Linked DNA regions of Homo sapiens. The protein of the gene in region 1 purifies or fractionates together with the protein of each later gene. This does not show direct contact. Each region holds a gene or a part of one and is shown on either strand. Other genes may lie near its edges.

Evidence for each region.
Region 2: the proteins of ODAPH (region 1) and ANKRD50 purify together in Homo sapiens (affinity purification with mass spectrometry; 2 studies listed by BioGRID and IntAct, with this or other methods). This does not show direct contact.
Region 3: the proteins of ODAPH (region 1) and MANBA purify together in Homo sapiens (affinity purification with mass spectrometry; 2 studies listed by BioGRID and IntAct, with this or other methods). This does not show direct contact.
Region 4: the proteins of ODAPH (region 1) and HAPLN3 purify together in Homo sapiens (affinity purification with mass spectrometry; 2 studies listed by BioGRID and IntAct, with this or other methods). This does not show direct contact.

What each region holds. Positions count from the first base shown.
Region 1 is NC_000004.12:75,554,218-75,559,114, reverse strand, and holds the start of ODAPH (odontogenesis associated phosphoprotein isoform 2 precursor), read right to left. Parts: upstream 3,050-4,897; 5' UTR 3,033-3,049; coding exon 2,966-3,032; intron 2,575-2,965; coding exon of another isoform or gene 2,531-2,574; intron 1-2,530. UniProt on the Homo sapiens protein: May promote nucleation of hydroxyapatite.
Region 2 is NC_000004.12:124,670,529-124,674,932, reverse strand, and holds part of ANKRD50 (ankyrin repeat domain-containing protein 50), read left to right. Parts: intron 1-2,398; coding exon 2,399-4,404.
Region 3 is NC_000004.12:102,631,265-102,635,668, reverse strand, and holds part of MANBA (beta-mannosidase precursor), read left to right. Parts: intron 1-623; coding exon 624-881; intron 882-3,387; coding exon 3,388-3,612; 3' UTR 3,613-4,404.
Region 4 is NC_000015.10:88,892,041-88,897,133, reverse strand, and holds the start of HAPLN3 (hyaluronan and proteoglycan link protein 3 isoform 2 precursor), read left to right. Parts: upstream 1-1,589; 5' UTR 1,590-1,675; intron 1,676-4,021; coding exon of another isoform or gene 4,022-4,160; intron 4,161-5,093. UniProt on the Homo sapiens protein: May function in hyaluronic acid binding.

The sequences.
Region 1 (4,897 bases):
CTTGATGAGTTAAATGGTCAGGCCGACCTTGAATGTTCCTCTCTGTATATTTTGTGGAGTTCAGTGAGTATTTAATTTCAGTCGCAGAAAATCTGCAATAATAAATTATATTAAAAATTGGCTGGGCGTGGTGGCTTACACTTATAATCCCAGCACTTTGGGAGGCTGAGCCAGGCAGATTACTTAAGCTCAGGAGTTCAAGACCAGCCTGGCCAACATGGTGAAACCTCGTCTCTACTAAAAACACAAAAATTAGCCGGGCATGGTGGCAGACACTTGTAATCCCAGCTACTCTGGAGGCTGAGGCAGGAGAATCATCTGAACCCAGGAGGCGGAGGTTGCAGTGAGCTGAGATAGTGCCACTGCACACTCCAGCCTGGGCGACAGAGGGAGACCCTGTCTCAAACAAACATACAAACAAACAAACAAAAAAATTAGAGTATAATAGAAAAAACAAGGCAAAATATTGCTTGGAATTTGAATATCAGTTTTAAGGTGGTTTATTATAGTCTAGACATGAAATTCACAGCATACCAACAACTACTTTAAAAACAAGTACTTTTTTAAAAAAAGGTAATGATGAAAGACCTTTTTTTTTTTTTATAATTACCTATACTCTGTGGTTATTTGGGCAGACAAAGCTGGCTTGCAGTGAACTATACTGATTTTAAGAGAAGTCAGCTTTCTACTTAAAGTTTAAGTGTGCAGTTCTTCCCTTACATGGTGCATGGAGTCTTAGAAACTAATTCTCATGTGCTTTCAGACTTGAGCCAGAAAGAATAAGTTCTATGATTGATTTACTCACAATAACTGCAAAACTCAATTTATTTTGTAGACTCAAAGAATGACTATCTTGGTCAAATCTCTAATTTCACAGATAAAATATCAGAGCCCAGAAAGTATCAGACAGGCCCCTTTCAATTCTATGCTGTGAGTCAAGTTGTTTCAACAGGTACAGGTTACTACATTAGGGGCTCTGGCAAACGCAGAGATGATTAAGATTAAGAGCCTGAGCTCAAGGAGTGGGCAGATGCTATGAAGCCAGGGATCTGCAGCAGAGAGCAGATGCCATACGTGCCGTAGGTGATGCACAAATAGCTGTAAGAATTCAAAGGTGTCAGAAAGAGAAACTGCAATTTTAAAATTATTATGTCTTAACAAAGACTTTGTCAAGGCAAAATCATAGTGGCATTTAAATGTTGTGCCTTAAAGCGGAACTGCAACAAACAGAGGTGAAAGCAAGTGGAGGGAGCAGCTGTGGTTGCTGCCGTGCATCAGTGAGAAGAGGATGAGTATGGAGATCCACACATGACCTTGTCGGGCAGACCCAGGGTGTGTGTGAACGAGCGATGAACTGGAAGCAGGGGCTGCTGGGATAGAATGAAGCTACATTTGAAGGACTTCGAGGGATTGTAGGGAAAAGTGAGCCAAATTCGGAAATCAAATCTGGTGTTTCAATGGGTGTTTTGTTTTTTGAGACAGAGTTTCACTCTTGTTCCCCAGGCTGGAGTGCAATGGCACGATCTTGGCTCATGGCAACCTCCACCTCCTGGGTTCAAGCGATTCTCCTGCCTCAGCCTCCCGAGTAGCTGGGATTACAGGCATGCACCACCACACCTGGCTAATTTTGTATTTTTTGTAGAGATGGGGTTTCTCCATGTTGGTCAGGCTGGTTTTGAACTCCCGACCTCAGGTGATCTGCCCACCTCGGCCTCCCAAAATGCTGGGATTACAGGTGTGAGCCACTGTACCCAGCCTCAGTGGGTGTTTTTAAGATGTGAATAAAATAAATCTCTAATCTCATTATAACTTGTTTAGCTATGTGTTTACAAAGCCTCCTGAAGAGCGGTTCACTTTTTGCAGAGAAAGTGGCAGGTGGCTAGTTTTGTTTTATGATGCTTCTTTTAGATGTCACTTTTAGTAGGTGAGGCTTGGGGGCCTTGCCTTGGGATATGGGGGCAGGTTTTGTTCATAATCTATGCCCTGTCCCCTGATTGCCAGAGTGTGTGCAGAGGTTGGATCAGGGGGTTTCTGAGTGTTCCACAACCAGCTCTTATGTCTCTCCCCTCCTCCTGTCTATTGTGAGCTCTGAGGGATGGGAACGGGGAATCTGTCTGGGGATGAGCAGGGTTTGGCTGAGCCCCTGCAAAGCCCCCTACCCAAGACATGTGAAAGGGGTGAAGTGCTCTGTTTGACTCCTAGGTCCATCTTCCGTAAACAGCATCTAGTTTTGGAATTAAAATAAACTGAAGAAAAGGTTAGATCTAGGCTCCCCAAGATTTCCTCCCCTTGTATTTCCCTCTTTTCATCCCTTCCCCAGCCTTTTCTTTCCTTTTCCTAGGGGTTTGCAAACCAATTGTAAGGCTCAGGACACATTTTGTAGTGGGAACAAAGAAAGAGAATAGGAACAGTTGAGAAATGGAATCTAATAAAATCCTAAAGAAAGAAACCTGTGCCCACCTCTGTGGCACCAAAATGCAGCTCAATAGATGTGATTAATTAAAGCAATGAACAAAGACTAAATACCCACCATGTGCAAATTAATATGCTGCTGGAGATAGAAAGTGGACAGTGCTGTAATTCAAAGTGGAATTGTTAGCTTTGTAACCATAATAACTAGTATTTGTACAGTGTTTTTAGCTTGAAGAGTTTTTCACAGATGATAGCTCATTTGGTCCTTGCAAACCCCATAACGATGGATATTGTTAATGTTGTCACTTCACATATGAGGAATCTGATACTCAGAGATTTTAAGTGTGTCTAAAGTCACAGAGCTATTGCTGAGACGAGGACCAAGGTCTTCAGGTGACAAAATCCAACTTCCTTCTCTTTAACCACACAGGCTGATGGAAGCTGAGGTAAATATTTCCAATTTATGGGAACGTATAATCATGGAGCCAGTTTTGTCTTTTCCTACAACTTATTAATTAGTGGACCCACAGTAGAATAAAAGCAAAACCCTTACCTTCTGCCACAGTTACCACCAACCAGCATACCAGTAACCAGTAGGAGAAGCAGTGTCTGCGAGCCATGGCTTCTACTGAGCAGTCACTGCGTTGAACCTGATGTTGCTTTAAAGGGGAGCTGGTGAGTCACCAGCAGCCTGATTCAGGTAATTTGCATTTGCACAGTGGACCACAGAGATCAGGGCTTGCGGTGTGAGGGTAAGAAATCAGCAAGGAAATACCAGACAGTATTTGTCAACCAGAAGCTTCTTGGAATGACAGCCAGATATCAATCATCTCCCCCCAGAGGGGGATTTTGGACAACCGCACCTTCACCATCCTTCTAATCTCTCAAATCTTCTCCCATGTTAGTGCCTTTTAGTTGTGTATATCAGTCTTCCTCTGCAAGAGAAATAAGCTGTCCAGAAATATGCAACAGTGCTTCTCTCTGTGCAGCTTACCTACTTAAAAAGCGAAACAAGAGGGAGAGGGCATTACCCGGAGGCTTCCTGACCCCGGTGGTTTGCAGTGGAGAGTTGGGGATCATTCTTAGGCCCCCAACCAGGGTTTATGCTGCTTCTCTGCTCTGCTTTTGTCCAGGAGGTGAGGGCAGCAGAATCAGAAAGTGATCTTCCCTAGTGGTCATGATGGTCACTGTCTAAACAAACATAAACATTGGGAGAGTAACTTAGTGAGTCGTCCTTTCACGGCTCCTCCTGATTCACCATATTGCATATAAAATGGACATGACATGTCTATGTCCAGTTGGTTTCCTGAGAGAAAGACTTCATCAGCTGCTGGATATATGAGAGGGGATTGTCACAGGTGATTAAGAACATGGACCTTGGAGTCAGGTAAAATTCCAGTCTTTGTTCCTTTTCTTACTAGCTGAGTGACTGTGGTGAGTCCCTGAGACTTGCTGAAGCCTCAGGGGCCTCACCTGTAAAATGGGACTTGTGGTACTACCCTCAGAGGAATTTGTGAATTAAGGAGATGCTTTTAAAAAAAATTTTTTTTAAATTTCAATCTTTTGGGGTACGAGTGGTTTTGGGTTACATGGATGGACTCTATGGTGGCGAACTCTGAGATTTTAGTGCACTCGTCACCCGAGCAGTGTACACTGCACCCAATATGTAGTCTTTTATCCCTCACCTCCTTCCCAACCTCCCCCACCCCTAGCCTCTAAAGTCCATTATATCATTCTGTATGTCTTTGTGTCCTCATAGCTCAGCTCCCACGTATAAGTGAGAACATACGATATTTGGTTTTCCATTCCTGAGTTACTTAACTTGGAATAATGGCCTCCAGCTCCATCCAAGTTGCTGCAAAAGACATTATTTCATTTTTTTATGGCTGAGTAGTATTCCATGGTGTATTTCTACCACATTTTCTTTATCCACTCGTTGGTCGATGGCCACTTAGTTGGTTTCATATCAAGGAGATAATTGACATACAGCTCCAACCACAGTGCCTGGCCTGTGAAAGGGAGTGTTTGTGATTGTCATTAAATTATAATAATCCCAACTGATAATTTATTCTCTTAGGAGGCTGTACTTGCCAAATCAGTTAATCACTGGAAAGACCTCCACTTTAAGCAGAACATTTTCCTGGGTATCATGGAAAAAAAAAAAAAAAAAAAAAAAGAACAAACTAAACATGGTCCCTGTCTTTGAAGGACTGACAATCTAACAAGAGAGGCTGTGCAAACTGAAAGTCTAAATGAATAAGGATGCAAACACTCACAGATAGAAAATGGAAAGTTCCTCAGGCTTGATGTTAGTCCTAGGCAAACTTCCAGAACAGATAATCAGATGGATGATTTGTCAGCAGTTTGAAAAGGAATCAGGAAACATCCAGGACAAATTGAGTTCCTTAGACTACCCATTCATTCAATAATTCTGTATTGACTTTTATTTATTCAGTGTCAGACACTGGTCAAGGTGCTGGGGCTA
Region 2 (4,404 bases), about 49 Mb from region 1:
CAGTACTGTAACTCAAGATATTTAAGTTGTTGATTAATAGATATTCTTAGTTCTGTTTTAATGAACAGATAACTATTATAACCATCATTGGTAAAGAACATGGTAATTTCTTCTATCTAAAATCCATATTATTAAGTATTTAGATTGGGGGGAGATTTATTCTCTAAATTATAAATTCTCTGTAAGTTTTCTTTATGAAATTCTATACTTTCTTATAGAATTAATCCTATGTCCCTACTCCCTCCTCTTCATTCCCCTGTCAAACACTTGAGTTTTCTTTCACAGCTTTCTATTCTTGTTCCTATCTTAATGAAAAGAGCAAACTTCAAAGTCAAACAAAACAATCAAAATTTATCACTTTCTAGCTGTGTTACTGTGAGCAATTTATTTAGCCTTTCTGAGCTTTAGGTTCCTCATTTTTTAAAATAGAAATATTTATCTCCCAGGCTTAACAGACAAGGAAGTTTTATAAATAATGAATACTTAAACTACTACCTTAGTTGACTCTCAATAAATGTAGCTCTCCTTTATTCCTTTCTGTAGAACCCTACCTGTTACTGTGGAGTTTCTGTCTTAATAATCTCAAGTTCCAATCATGACATCTTAGTTAATTAGGTTTAAATTTTAGATATTTATTCATAATGTATTATCTTTCATGTAAATCAAGTAGTGTAATATAAAGTCTTACATTAAAGTAATGTAAAGTATTACATTGCTTCAGAAACTTTAAAACACTATATAATGTAAAATAATATTATTTCTTAAGTAACTTATTTTATTAGCAATGTACTAGGTATTTCCCTTATCTAACTTAAATTTTAAAGTGAATTGATAAAGTCAAAAGCAAATGGACACACAGAAAAAGATTTGGAGGCAAATCATCTCACATCATTGGTAAATATAGATTGCTGTAAATTTCTAGGTATGTTTTAAACCCTCCTTAGGTGAGCAGTGACTTTTTCACAATTGAAATTTATCTTTTGAAATTATTTCTGTTGAGGATTTAATAATCAATTGTGTGTGTATACATATATATGTAAAATTAGATTCTATTTTTATATAGATTTAGGGCTATATAAATCTATATACAAAGGGCTATATTAGTACAACTGTTATTCATATTTTATTCTTGGTAGGTTGTTTTTAATTTTTCAATAACTGTCCATTTTGTCTACATACTTAAAGCTTAGTATTACAAAATTGAGTTCATCAGCTTTTTCTCCAAACCTATTATTTGTCCTTCACTGGTCTCTTTTTCAGTCCTGTTGGCAGAGCCACAAGTTAGTGTCAGCTTTGACTCGTCCTTCTCTCTTTACTTCTCCACATTCACCAAACACTGTATAATCTAGCTCTTATTAAAAATTCCCAAGTCCATCACGTTATTTTTGCTGCTGCTGCTGCTGCTGCAACTGCTGCCACCACCATGGCTGTTCAGGCTCATAGTGATTTTCATCTAGAGTGCATCACAGCCTCTTTAAAAATCGTTTTTCCTTTAGTCTTGACTTGCTCCAGTTCTTCTTTAGATGTTAGAATATTCCTTCAAAATGCAAATCTGGTCATGTTAGAGACTTGGTAAGTTCATTCACTTAGCAGTTTTTTGTTCTGTAAGATGAATACACAATTGTCTAATAAGTTCATATCTGTATATCATGATGTCATCTGCCTTTAGACAGTGAAATTATGGCTTCCTTTAAAGAACTTAAAATGAGTTTAAAATAGCTATAGCTAGTATATTTTTAGGTTGGTTTAAATCTTATTATTTATTTTACAGTGCTGAAGTTTTTTGACCATAATTTAGCCAAAAAGTTGGATCTTAATTGGTTCAAGCTATTTATTGATGGTCTGAGATTTAGTTATTTTAGTTTGATAAAATGTACAGTAATGTAGTTTAAAGACAATGACTGGATATTCTAATTGGATGTAAATATTCAGTCACATAATTAAGGCTAGTGTATATTCAAGTGTATAGGTGAAAATATATAAATTATTTATATGGAAGAGATTTTGTAAAAAGAAACCTTACTTGTTATGTCTCCTGCAACTTTTTTTCCCAATCACTTGGGAGTTCAGATGATGTTAACTGGGTACTTTTATGGTTATGTAAGACTGTCTGCTTCTTAATTAGTATCTATTACAATGGAGTTGAGAGAGGCACCAAGCTACTAAAGGAATAAGTAGTTCAATTTGTAGGTAGGAAAATGAAATTTTTCTGCCATCAGTGTGTTTTTGCAGAAAGAAAAGAAAACTGATTTACATACTAATAGGTATTAATTGATCTGCTTATTAGTATTAATTTATTAATTGATTTATTTATTATATGTTGACATTCTCTTTGAAGATATGGTACTTCTATAATCCTTTTCAACTGATTACATCTACTTTTTTATCTCTTCTTTAGGTTTTCGAAAAATAAGTTTAGATGACCTTCGGAAGGCATATATCGTCAAGGATGTTCAGCAGTACATTCTTCATCGTTTAGATCAAGAAGAAGCTTTGCGACAACACCTCACAAAAGAAACTGCAGAGATGTTAAATCAACTGCACATTAAAAGCAGTGGATGCTTTCTTTACCTAGAACGAGTTTTAGATGGAGTTGTAGAAAATTTTATTATGTTAAGAGAAATTCGTGACATCCCAGGAACTCTAAATGGTTTATATCTCTGGCTGTGCCAAAGACTTTTTGTAAGAAAACAATTTGCAAAGGTTCAGCCTATTTTGAATGTGATTCTTGCAGCCTGCCGACCTTTGACCATAACGGAATTATATCACGCAGTATGGACCAAAAACATGTCGTTAACTTTGGAAGATTTTCAACGCAAGTTAGATATCCTCTCCAAACTTCTTGTTGATGGACTAGGAAATACAAAAATACTGTTTCATTATAGTTTTGCCGAGTGGCTTCTGGATGTGAAACACTGTACTCAGAAGTATTTATGTAATGCAGCAGAAGGACACAGAATGTTGGCTATGAGTTATACCTGTCAAGCCAAGAATTTAACACCATTGGAAGCACAAGAATTTGCATTGCACTTAATTAACTCAAACTTACAATTAGAGACAGCGGAGTTAGCTCTGTGGATGATATGGAATGGTACACCTGTCAGAGATTCCCTTTCTACTTTGATACCCAAGGAACAAGAAGTGCTACAGCTGTTGGTTAAAGCTGGGGCTCATGTCAACAGTGAAGACGATCGCACATCATGCATAGTTCGACAAGCCTTAGAAAGAGAGGATTCCATTCGGACATTATTAGATAATGGAGCTTCAGTAAATCAGTGTGATTCAAATGGGAGAACATTATTGGCTAATGCTGCATATAGTGGCAGTCTTGATGTAGTCAATTTACTTGTCTCTAGGGGAGCAGATTTAGAGATAGAAGATGCTCATGGACATACACCACTCACTCTAGCGGCTAGACAGGGACATACCAAGGTGGTTAATTGTTTGATTGGGTGTGGAGCAAATATTAATCATACTGATCAAGATGGTTGGACAGCATTAAGATCTGCTGCTTGGGGTGGCCATACTGAGGTAGTTTCTGCACTACTTTATGCTGGCGTAAAAGTGGATTGTGCAGATGCTGATAGCCGAACAGCTTTGAGAGCAGCAGCATGGGGAGGACACGAGGATATTGTACTGAATTTGCTACAACATGGCGCTGAAGTGAACAAAGCTGATAATGAAGGTAGAACTGCTTTGATAGCAGCAGCATACATGGGACATAGAGAGATTGTGGAACACCTACTGGACCATGGAGCAGAAGTAAATCATGAGGATGTTGATGGCAGGACTGCACTCTCTGTAGCTGCACTTTGTGTGCCTGCAAGTAAAGGGCACGCATCAGTTGTTAGCCTTTTAATTGATCGAGGTGCTGAAGTAGATCATTGTGATAAAGATGGCATGACTCCACTGCTGGTAGCTGCCTATGAAGGACATGTTGATGTGGTTGACTTGCTTCTAGAAGGGGGAGCAGATGTAGATCACACAGATAACAATGGCCGTACACCCCTCTTAGCAGCAGCGTCTATGGGTCATGCATCAGTTGTAAATACACTTTTGTTTTGGGGTGCAGCTGTGGATAGTATTGATAGTGAAGGTAGGACAGTCCTCAGTATAGCTTCAGCACAAGGAAATGTTGAGGTGGTACGTACTCTACTGGATAGAGGGTTAGATGAAAATCACAGAGATGATGCTGGATGGACACCTTTGCACATGGCAGCTTTTGAAGGGCACAGATTGATATGTGAAGCACTTATTGAACAAGGTGCTAGAACAAATGAGATTGACAATGATGGACGAATCCCTTTCATATTAGCTTCACAAGAGGGTCATTATGATTGTGTTCAAATATTACTGGAAAACAAATCCAACATTGATCAAAGAGGTTATGATGGAAGAAATGCA
Region 3 (4,404 bases), about 27 Mb from region 1:
AGTAAAATGATACCAGTCTCTCTTCTTACAGGATTTCTATGAGTAGGAAATAAAATAACTAGATGAAAGCAAATCACATATGCTATAATGTGCCCCTTAAATGCAAGGTTATTTATAATTGTGAGAGGCTGGAAATAGTCCAAACTTTATAAAAAGAAATGGTTAAAAATGGCATGTTATAGTGAAAATCAGTAAAACTATTCAGAATGCGCATGTGGAAAGCAAATTTGTTTTAAAAAACAAATTTAAGTAAAAAGAAAGGCTAGAAACTCAAAGTCTTAGGTGGCTATAGTTTGGAGGACACTAATAACACTGAAAATAGGTCACATTTACAGAAAAATTACAACGCACCAGGTACTGTGCCTTCCGTGGATTATTTTTTAAATTCTCACAACAGCCTGTGACATTACTGCTGTTATTTTCATTCTACATATGAAGAAATGAAGACTGAGAAGTTACTTAGTCACATAGCTAGTATTTTGCAGGACTGGGATTAAAACTCAGGTTTCATAGTCTCTTAACCATTTCTGCTAACCTGACTTTCAGCAATTATTACTACTATTGTTCCTTAAAAACATAGCAACCAAGAATGCCTGTTTTTATTCTGTTTTATTTCTCCCCAGGTGAGAGTCCATACATGGAGCTCCCTGGAGCCCGTGTGCTCTCGTGTGACTGAACGTTTTGTGATGAAAGGAGGAGAGGCTGTCTGCCTTTATGAGGAGCCAGTGTCTGAATTGCTGAGGAGATGTGGGAATTGCACACGGGAAAGCTGTGTGGTTTCCTTTTACCTTTCAGCTGACCATGAACTCCTGAGCCCGACCAACTACCACTTCTTGTCCTCACCGAAGGAGGCCGTGGGGCTCTGCAAGGCGCAGATCACTGTAAGCACAGGTCATGGCGGAGGGCAGGGGACTGTGGCCTTGTGGGGTTCTCCTGCTCTTGGGCCAGCTCCTTGCATCCTGAGATTTGCATGTGTCCCCCTTGGTGCTGAGTTTACCTGAGGCCTGGGGGAAGATTGGCCTCTTCCCACTAAAAGCAAACACCAAATGATTTCTATTTCGAATCCAGGATTTGTCAGAGTTGCTGGTGACCACTACTCGTTTGTCCCATCACCCCTCCTTAGTGGGCAGGTGCAGTGATGGGAGAGGAAGCTCGAGTCATCACCACTGCCTGCATGCCCACTAGGTTCCAGGCTGTGTTCTAGGTGCTTCACCTCATAGTCTCTGACTTTCACCACAGCTCCAGGCATTATCATCTGCATTTTGTAAGTTTGGAAGCCAGTTTAGGAGGTTAAGTGATGAGCTCGAGGTCCTGTAGCTGGGAAGCATTGGAGCCCAGCTGACGCAGTCTAATTTTAAGTAGAGTCTATTAATATTCACTCTAGTCTCTTTGATTTATTGCTTCAAAGTAGCTCAATCACCAAATCTTTTTATAATTGCCAAGATATAAAAATGGGATGATCAGGATGTGTTGTTATAAAAATTGTGCAGCTGGAGAATTTGGAATTTGTCTAGTAGGTTGAAAACCTTTCCTTCCTTCTCCCCTACACATAGCAGTTGGAAATATATGTACACATATATGTTTTTAATTTTATTATCTTATCTTCTGGACACTCAGGAAATATCTTTCTAGAAAGTTACATTCTCTGTTTTTAGAAAATTTTAAATTTGTTTTACACTTTTACTTCATAGAAAGGGATTTTCTACATTTAATTTAGAAATAATCATATAAAAACACCTAATTCTTGTGTTTTATTTGAAAGAGCCTAACAACTGAAAACATACCTTCTTTCTATAGTCACATAATAAAATCCAAGTTATCTGTAACAACTAATAGAGAACAGAAGAAAATGACAGTCTTACATATATTTTTTTCCAAAAAAGAAAAAAAAAACCACTATGTACTGGATGAATTTTCAGTCTCTAAACTTATGATTTTGAAAACCAAATTTTTTTCTTTCCTGAGTTAGGCCTTCATTACCTTGAGGTGGGTAATTGGGGTGGGAGAAAAGCAGGGCTCTTTCTTTGTTCTATCTCATTTTGATTTCAGTGAGACTTGTCCTTCTTAAAGAGATAAAATGATAGTAATAATACTGTTAGTTAATGTTTAATTCGGGGCTAATATAGACTAGGTATTTGGCTTCTTTTCTCAAGGGAGATGCCAGAAACTTGTTCTCCCTGTCTCCCTGAAGCCAGGGTGCAAGCTTGAATCCCAGGCTCTGCAGTCAGACATACAGAGAGGAGATTTCCAATCCAACGAAGATAACCAGCATAAGCATGACACCAGCATCTCTTTCGGCCTTGGTCTTGGAGCAGCAGAAGCTGATGCTACCCTGGCAGCTTCCTGGGCAGGCTGGCATGAGCCGCATGAACCTTGTTCCTGTGGCTGCTTTAGGACCTTCACTGGAACAGCTGGGCGGTGCGATCTGGGAATTTGCCATCCAAATTCAAGCCTGAGTCTCTGATCCTGAAGAGCAACCTGATACGCTTTATTAAGCTTCTTTTCTGCTTCTATCAATATAGGTTTCCTTGTGTATAACTCAGAACCCTGAATGATAACATATTACACAAATATGTAAGGCTAAATTATATATAGTGAAAATGGCCCTTTGAAATTCTTTATGTCACACATAACATATAATGTAAGACTGAGATGTTGCATGACAAATGCACAGATTAAGAAACCAGGTTGCACTCAGCTCCGTGCTCACACAAAGAGAGGTTTGCAAACCCTCCCACTCTGGGGAGCAGCGCATCCTCACTCTGGGCATATGCTATTCGGCTACTTAAGAGGAATGGAGCCAACACGATTTAAATTGCACTGTCTCTTTTTGCTGCTATTTTGTGGAATTCACACATGTAAAAAAAATGCTAATAATGTGACTTTACTTAACTATGCAGTAAAAGAGATAAGCTCTAATGGTAGAGCTTTTGTAAATTTCTGGCAGTGGACTTTCTAGATTGCTGGATCTTTTCAGGAGACTTGAATGTAAGCTCCACAGTTGGGCTCTGTAGCTAGGTCCAGATATATCCTTAGAAAGTCATTAAAACCACCCAGGCTGTATGTAAAAATGTTGCTCTCTTGATGATACTCTGAGAAAAACTGTAAAAGATGTAAAGCTTTGAGCTTCTTGTGAAATATTCTCCTTAATGATTGGAGACGATGTATTTCCTTGATTTGTGATTATAATTTGGTAACGTTCCATAGCCTGTAGTCATTTTCCATGTATTGTTTTGTGTTTGAAACTGCACTTTAGCAGTTGTAGAACCAAAGTTGTGGGAAGTGGACTCCTTGTTAAGCCCACATAAATGTTTACAGGAACTGTATACAGACTATATAACTCTTCCCTCATCCTTCACTTCATTCATTTTTTTTTTTCTTTTTCAGGCCATCATCTCTCAGCAAGGTGACATATTTGTTTTTGACCTGGAGACCTCAGCTGTCGCTCCCTTTGTTTGGTTGGATGTAGGAAGCATCCCAGGGAGATTTAGTGACAATGGTTTCCTCATGACTGAGAAGACACGAACTATATTATTTTACCCTTGGGAGCCCACCAGCAAGAATGAGTTGGAGCAATCTTTTCATGTGACCTCCTTAACAGATATTTACTGAAGGAATCTAGGTTGTATTTTCAGTGGACAATGGGAATAAAGCATTTCTAAAGCACCGACTGGAGAGGAAGGCAACAGAGACAAGGAGAGAAGCCGAGAGACATGTCTGCGTGCTGCCACGCATTTGAGCGATTGCTCTGTGAAGAGTTGTACACTGAACACTTTCAGGGGAGGCTGTTTACCCAGGCAATGTCCTCAAACAAGCCTGTGCCGGGGTGTCCTGGAATCTGTGCCAGGACTGTGTTTTTAGCCCTTCACCTCTCAGCTTTAGCAGGACATGAACCAGTTATAACAAGATGGCCCTGCAGCTGGTTACAAGAATGTGACATGGCAGGATCTATGGAACCAAATGGAAGGTTTTGAGGTGATGTAGGTCTTTCACAGCTAGCTTTGGGGAATACGGAATACTCAAATAAAGTGCTTTGTTATTATTTCAGAGGGAATGGCGATTGAAATGTTACAACAGAGATTTCTTGGTGGTAGCTATTTGGGTAAAGGTATATGGGTATTTTTCTGTACATGTGAAATTATATAAAAATAAAAGTTATATAAATTACATTGACAACTTGATATTTCATCTGTGGCTTATTTAACCGTTCTATAAATATTCAATTTTGCCCAATACTGTGCTGGACCCTAATTTCCATTTAGTTCTCGTTATTATTCTGCTTGGTAAACTGGGAGAGTTTGAAGAATCTAAACTAAGACATGTGAAAGGTTTTCTCTGGAAACAGTCATGTAATTGGTTATAGAATGGACCAGCAAAGAGTGTTTGGCTTTAAAATTAAGATAT
Region 4 (5,093 bases), on another chromosome or scaffold:
CAGCCTTCTAAAAGTCCCCCTCCTGGGACCCTGGAGTGGAGTCCCCTCACTCCTGACCCCCTCCTTCCTTCCTTGGCTTCTCTCCCTCAGCAGTGTCTTCCATTTGCCCAGCTTTTACCATCACCCCTACACATTGACTTTTTTCTGCCCCACTGCAAGGCAGAGGGTGAGCGTTCAGATTCCACCTGCTGGCTACCCCTACCCCTGGCTGGCATGTTCAACTCGACTTAACTGTAGCAAAATGTGCTCTCCCTACTGTCCATCCTCTCCCCTGTCGGGAACCTGCAGAGGGACCTACCTTGGCTCCCCTTTGCCCATCAAGCCTGGCGTTCCTTTTAGGTGTAGTTTACCTGTTGATCACAGTTCTTTGTGCTCCAATGTGCCCCTGGCTGTGTGTAACACACACACATGCACACACACACACACACTCATGGGCCAACTTGAGCTGTGTTTAGGAAGAGGCTCTGAGCTCTGTGACCCTGTGACCCTTCGACCCTTCCCCCAGCCAAAGCTGAAGGACCTCCTTAGTCTTTTCTGCTGAGGAAACATCGGGCTGTCCAGGCCAGGGCCCCCATTGGTCTGGACAGGAAAGAAAACACCCTGTCCAAACAGAGGCATCCTGAGCGGCTGCCTGGATGGCTGTGCTGATTAGCAGGATTCCGAAGGGAGGCCCACCCCTGTTGGAGGACCACTCAGAAGCCTGATTGCCCCTGCAGGCTGCAGAGGTATCCCACCCTGTGTCTCCCCTCCCAGCCAGGGCCACTCATTCAAGCCCCATGTGCTGGGGATAGCACCTGCTATGTGCCTGACAGTGAGTTGGGAATCTGGCCAGTGTTTCATGATGGCCAAACTCAGGGGCATGAGGACATCAGCAACCCCTTGCTTTTTTTTTTTTTTTTTTTTTGAGACGGAGTTTTGCTCTTGTTGCCCAGGCTGGAGCACAATGGCATGATCTCAGCTCACTGCAACCTCCGCCTCCTGGGTTCAAGCAATTCTCCTGCCTCAGCCTCCCAAGTAGCTGGGATTACAGGCATGCTCCACCACGCCCAGCTAATTTTGTATTTTTAGTAGGGACAGGGTTTCACCATGTTGCCCAGGCTGGTCTTGAACTCCTGACCTCAGGTGATCCACCGGCCTCCACCTCCCAAAGTGCTGGGGTTACAAGCATGAGCCACTCACTGCACCTGGCCTCACCCCCTTGCTTTCTATTTGGAAAAGAAAGTAATACAGAAGTCTCACCCCTTCCACAATCAAAGGTGGGGAGCAGCCTTAGCCCCTAGCAGAATGCTGGACAGGGGCTTCCCCTGCTTACTCCCACTGTTTTTGGTATACCAGGCTTTCTAAGGGGATCCCCCCTCCCCAAACTCTCCTATTCCACCCCTACTCTCCTTTCCCAAGACGTGAGGGCCTCAACTCTTGCACACCCTCTTTGCGGTGGTTCCCAGCGAGTCTGGAGACCGCTCAAGCCTGCAGCAGCTCCTCCCTTCGAGCCCAGCCCTTGGGAGGGAAAGGTGCGCGTGTTCCTTTAAGGGGCTGGTCTGGCGGGAGCGCGGGGGTTTTTCTGCTGCCGCTTCCTTTCTGCCCTTTTAATTTCCCCGAAATCAGACTGCTGCCTTGGACCGGGACAGCTCGCGGCCCCCGAGAGCTCTAGCCGTCGAGGAGCTGCCTGGGGACGGTACGTGGCTTAGGGGTCGCTGGGCTTCTGGGGCTGTGTGCGGGCCGGGTTCCTCCCTTACCGCTTTGGGTGCCCTGCGGGTCCCCACACCTCCCGGGCAGGGTCCGGGGAAGGGGCAGGAGGCGTGGGCCGGGCACTGCGGAGGCCCGGGCTGAGATGGGCTGTGATCGCGGGCGAGGGGCGCCCGGGGCACAAGTGGGGAGGGAGCGGCGCGGGGATGCGGGCGCCGGACCCTCGTGCCCACCGTGAGGGAGCAGAGCCCGAGCGGACCCCGTGGCCTCCGAGACCACCGTCCGCCTCCAGCCCCCTTCCTGCCAGGGTCCGCTTGGCTCTCTCCCCTGTCGTCTGTCCAGGGTCGGCTGCCTCCAGTGCCGTCCGCGGCGCCCCAGGCCCTGCCCCTGGGTATCTGTTGGATGCTCCGGGGGCCCCGGGAGTCCTGGGAGGGGCTGAGGGCAACCTGCGAGGCGGCTGGCGGACCTGCGCCTCTGGACCGCAGCTGGCCGGCTCTGGGCGCCTGGGGCAAAGGCAACTGATGCCTATGGGTTCCAGACCTCGCTCACCGGGGTTCTTGCCCCAGGGACAGCGAGGCCAGAAGGGTAGGGAGGGTGGAGGGCAGAGCCCTGGGTGGGAGATGGCGACCCTCAGGGAGAAACGTAGGCTTGTGCGCAGCCAGTATGGAAACAGCACGGCACTTGGACCCAGTCCTGCCACCAGCTCGTTGGCAGCCACAGGCCACAGGCAGCCTGTAAACCTGTTGGGACCTTGGTGTCCAGCGCTGACCCGCGGGAGTGCCTGTGCTCCCTGGAGTAGGGGGCAGCGATTGAGAGGGGCCCTGGCTTCTCTCCCTCGACGCCGCCCGGGCCAGCGGATTGGGAAACACCTCCGGTTTTCATTCTCCTGGGGGCTGCAGGTTTCAAAGGCGGAGATCAAGCCTTGTGCAAACAGGGACAGGGATGTCAAATTTCTCGCTGGGAGCAGCGCTCGTGCAGACCTCGCGGGCGATGCTGCCTCCTGCTGGTACCTGGGGGACTTGTACTCACGGAAGGCCCAGTGCGGACATGCACCTGGCAGGGAGGTGGCACCTACCCTCCCTCCAAGCCCAGGCTTATTGTTCTTGGGTGGAGGGGTCCCTAGGCTGGGGCGCCTGGGAAAAGCAAAGGGCTGGTCATCAGGAAACCTGAACTTTCTCTAAGTTCGAGATATTTGACAAAGATAACGCCTTGGGTAGTTCACTGACCTCCACTCTCTTGGCCTCAGTTTCCTCAACTGTGAAGAGGAGGCAGTGGTGACCACTTTGTCTCGTAGGCAGTGAGAGAGGAGAAAGAGCCACTGAGATGGTGTAAGACTTCACTGTGTGAACTGCTCACCAGAGTAGTAACAGGTCATATTTTCCCAGTGCTTGCTCCTTATCAAGCATCAAGCAGTATTTTCAGTGCTCTGCAGCTATTCTCTCCCTTAATCTTCACGAGAGTGTTTTCTGTTTGGTATTGTCGTGACCGCCCCCCCCACCCCAACTTTTTTTTTTTTTTTGAGATGGAGTCTCACTCTTCTTGCCCAGACTGGAGTGCAATGGCTCAATCTCGGCTCACTGCAACCTCCGCCTCCTGGGTTCAAGCGATTCTTCTGCTTCAGCCTCCCGAGTAGCTGGGACTACAAGCGCTCATCACCACACTCGGCTAATTTTTGTATTTTTAGTAGAGATGGGGTTTCACCGTGTTGGCCAGGCTAGTCTTGAACTCTTGACCTCAGGTGATCTGCCCACCTCAGCCTCCCAAAGTGCAGGGATAACAGGCATGAGGCACTGTGCCTGGCTTGTGACCCCCATTTTAAAGATGAAGAAACTGAGGCTCAGAGAGGTGCAGCGACTTGTCCAATGACAGAGGGTTAGTAAGTGGGTGGAGCCAGAACTGAATGCAGGCAGCCAATCTGCTTCTAGAGCCTGAAATCTTTGCCATGTTCATTTGTTGAGCACCTGCTGCATGCCAGGGACCAGACATCATACATCTTCTATAATTGTCACCACAGCCCATTTTTTTTTTTTGAGCTGGAGTCTTGCTCTGTCGGCCAGTCTGGAGTGCAGTGGTGTGGTCTTGGCTCACTGCAACTTCCGCCTCCTGGGTTCAAACAATTCTCCTGCCTTAGCCACCCCAGTAGCTGGGATTACAGGCATCTGCCACCACACCCAGCTAAATTTTGTATTTTCATTAGAGATGGGGGTTTCACTGTGTTGGCCAGGCCAGTCTCGAACTCCTGACCTCAGGTGATCCACCCCCTCAGCTTCCCCAAATGCTGTAGGATTACAGGTGTGAGCCACTGCACCCGGCCTTAAGTTCCTTTTTTTTACAGATGAGGAAATGGAGGCACAGAGAGGTGAACTTGCCCGAAGTCACTCAGCAGGATGCAGTGTGTCCAGCTCCAATACCGAGCCCAGGTCTGAGTGCCCAGACAGGACTCCAGAAGATTTGGGGAACTATCCACTGCCAAGGTGACTGGGCTGGACTTGGTCTTGGGCCTTCCAGCTGGTGGCACCTCTGTGGTGGTCCTGAGGAGTTGGTGGCTGGATAGCCATGGTAGGGGAGCAGAGGCTACCCATCCCTCCCCTCAGTGGTAGTGGTCAGGGATGGTCAGAGATGGACCTGAGGCAAGGCAGCAACCAAGTGGCAATTGCCACTCCTGACTCCCACACAGGACTCTGTCCTGTGCACTGACCTTAGCATTCAAGGCTGTGCTTGTCCTCAGCCCCCGAGTTCCCCTTTAGTCTTCTCTGGAGAGAGGAAATTTTCTGTTCAGAGAGGTCAAATGACTTTCCCAGGGTCACCCAGCTAGCAGGTGGCAGAGCCAAGACCCAACCTCAATGAGTTTAACTTGAAACCTTGGGCCTGTGTGCTGCTCCTCTCTCAGAGAGGCCTGGAAAATGGCCAGCTTCCTCCTGGCCTTTTGTTCTTGGGCACAGGGCTGATCTTTTCTTATAATTCCTTTTGTTTTTCTTTTCTTTTTTTTTTGAGATGCAGTTTCACTCTGTCGCCCAGGCTGGAGTGCAAAGGTGTGATCTCGGCTCACTGCAACCTCTGCCTCCCAGGTTCAAGCAATTCTCCTGCCTCAGCCTCTGGAGTAGCTGGGATTACAGGCACCCACCACCACACCCATCTATTTTTTATATTTTTAGTAGAGACGGGGTTTTACCATGTTGGCCAAGCTGGTCTCAAACTCCTGACCTCAGGTGATCTACCCTCCTTGGCCTCCAAAGTGCTGGGATAACAGGTGTAAGCCACTGTGCCCAGCTAATTCCTTTTGATTTTCTTGGCATCCCCCTCAATGTGAGGTTACATTACTGCTGAGTTAGCATCCAACAAAGAGGTGTTACTGATGTCACTTAGTGGCAGAAACGCCTGCATTTGTTTACCCTTAGGAAGCCCTT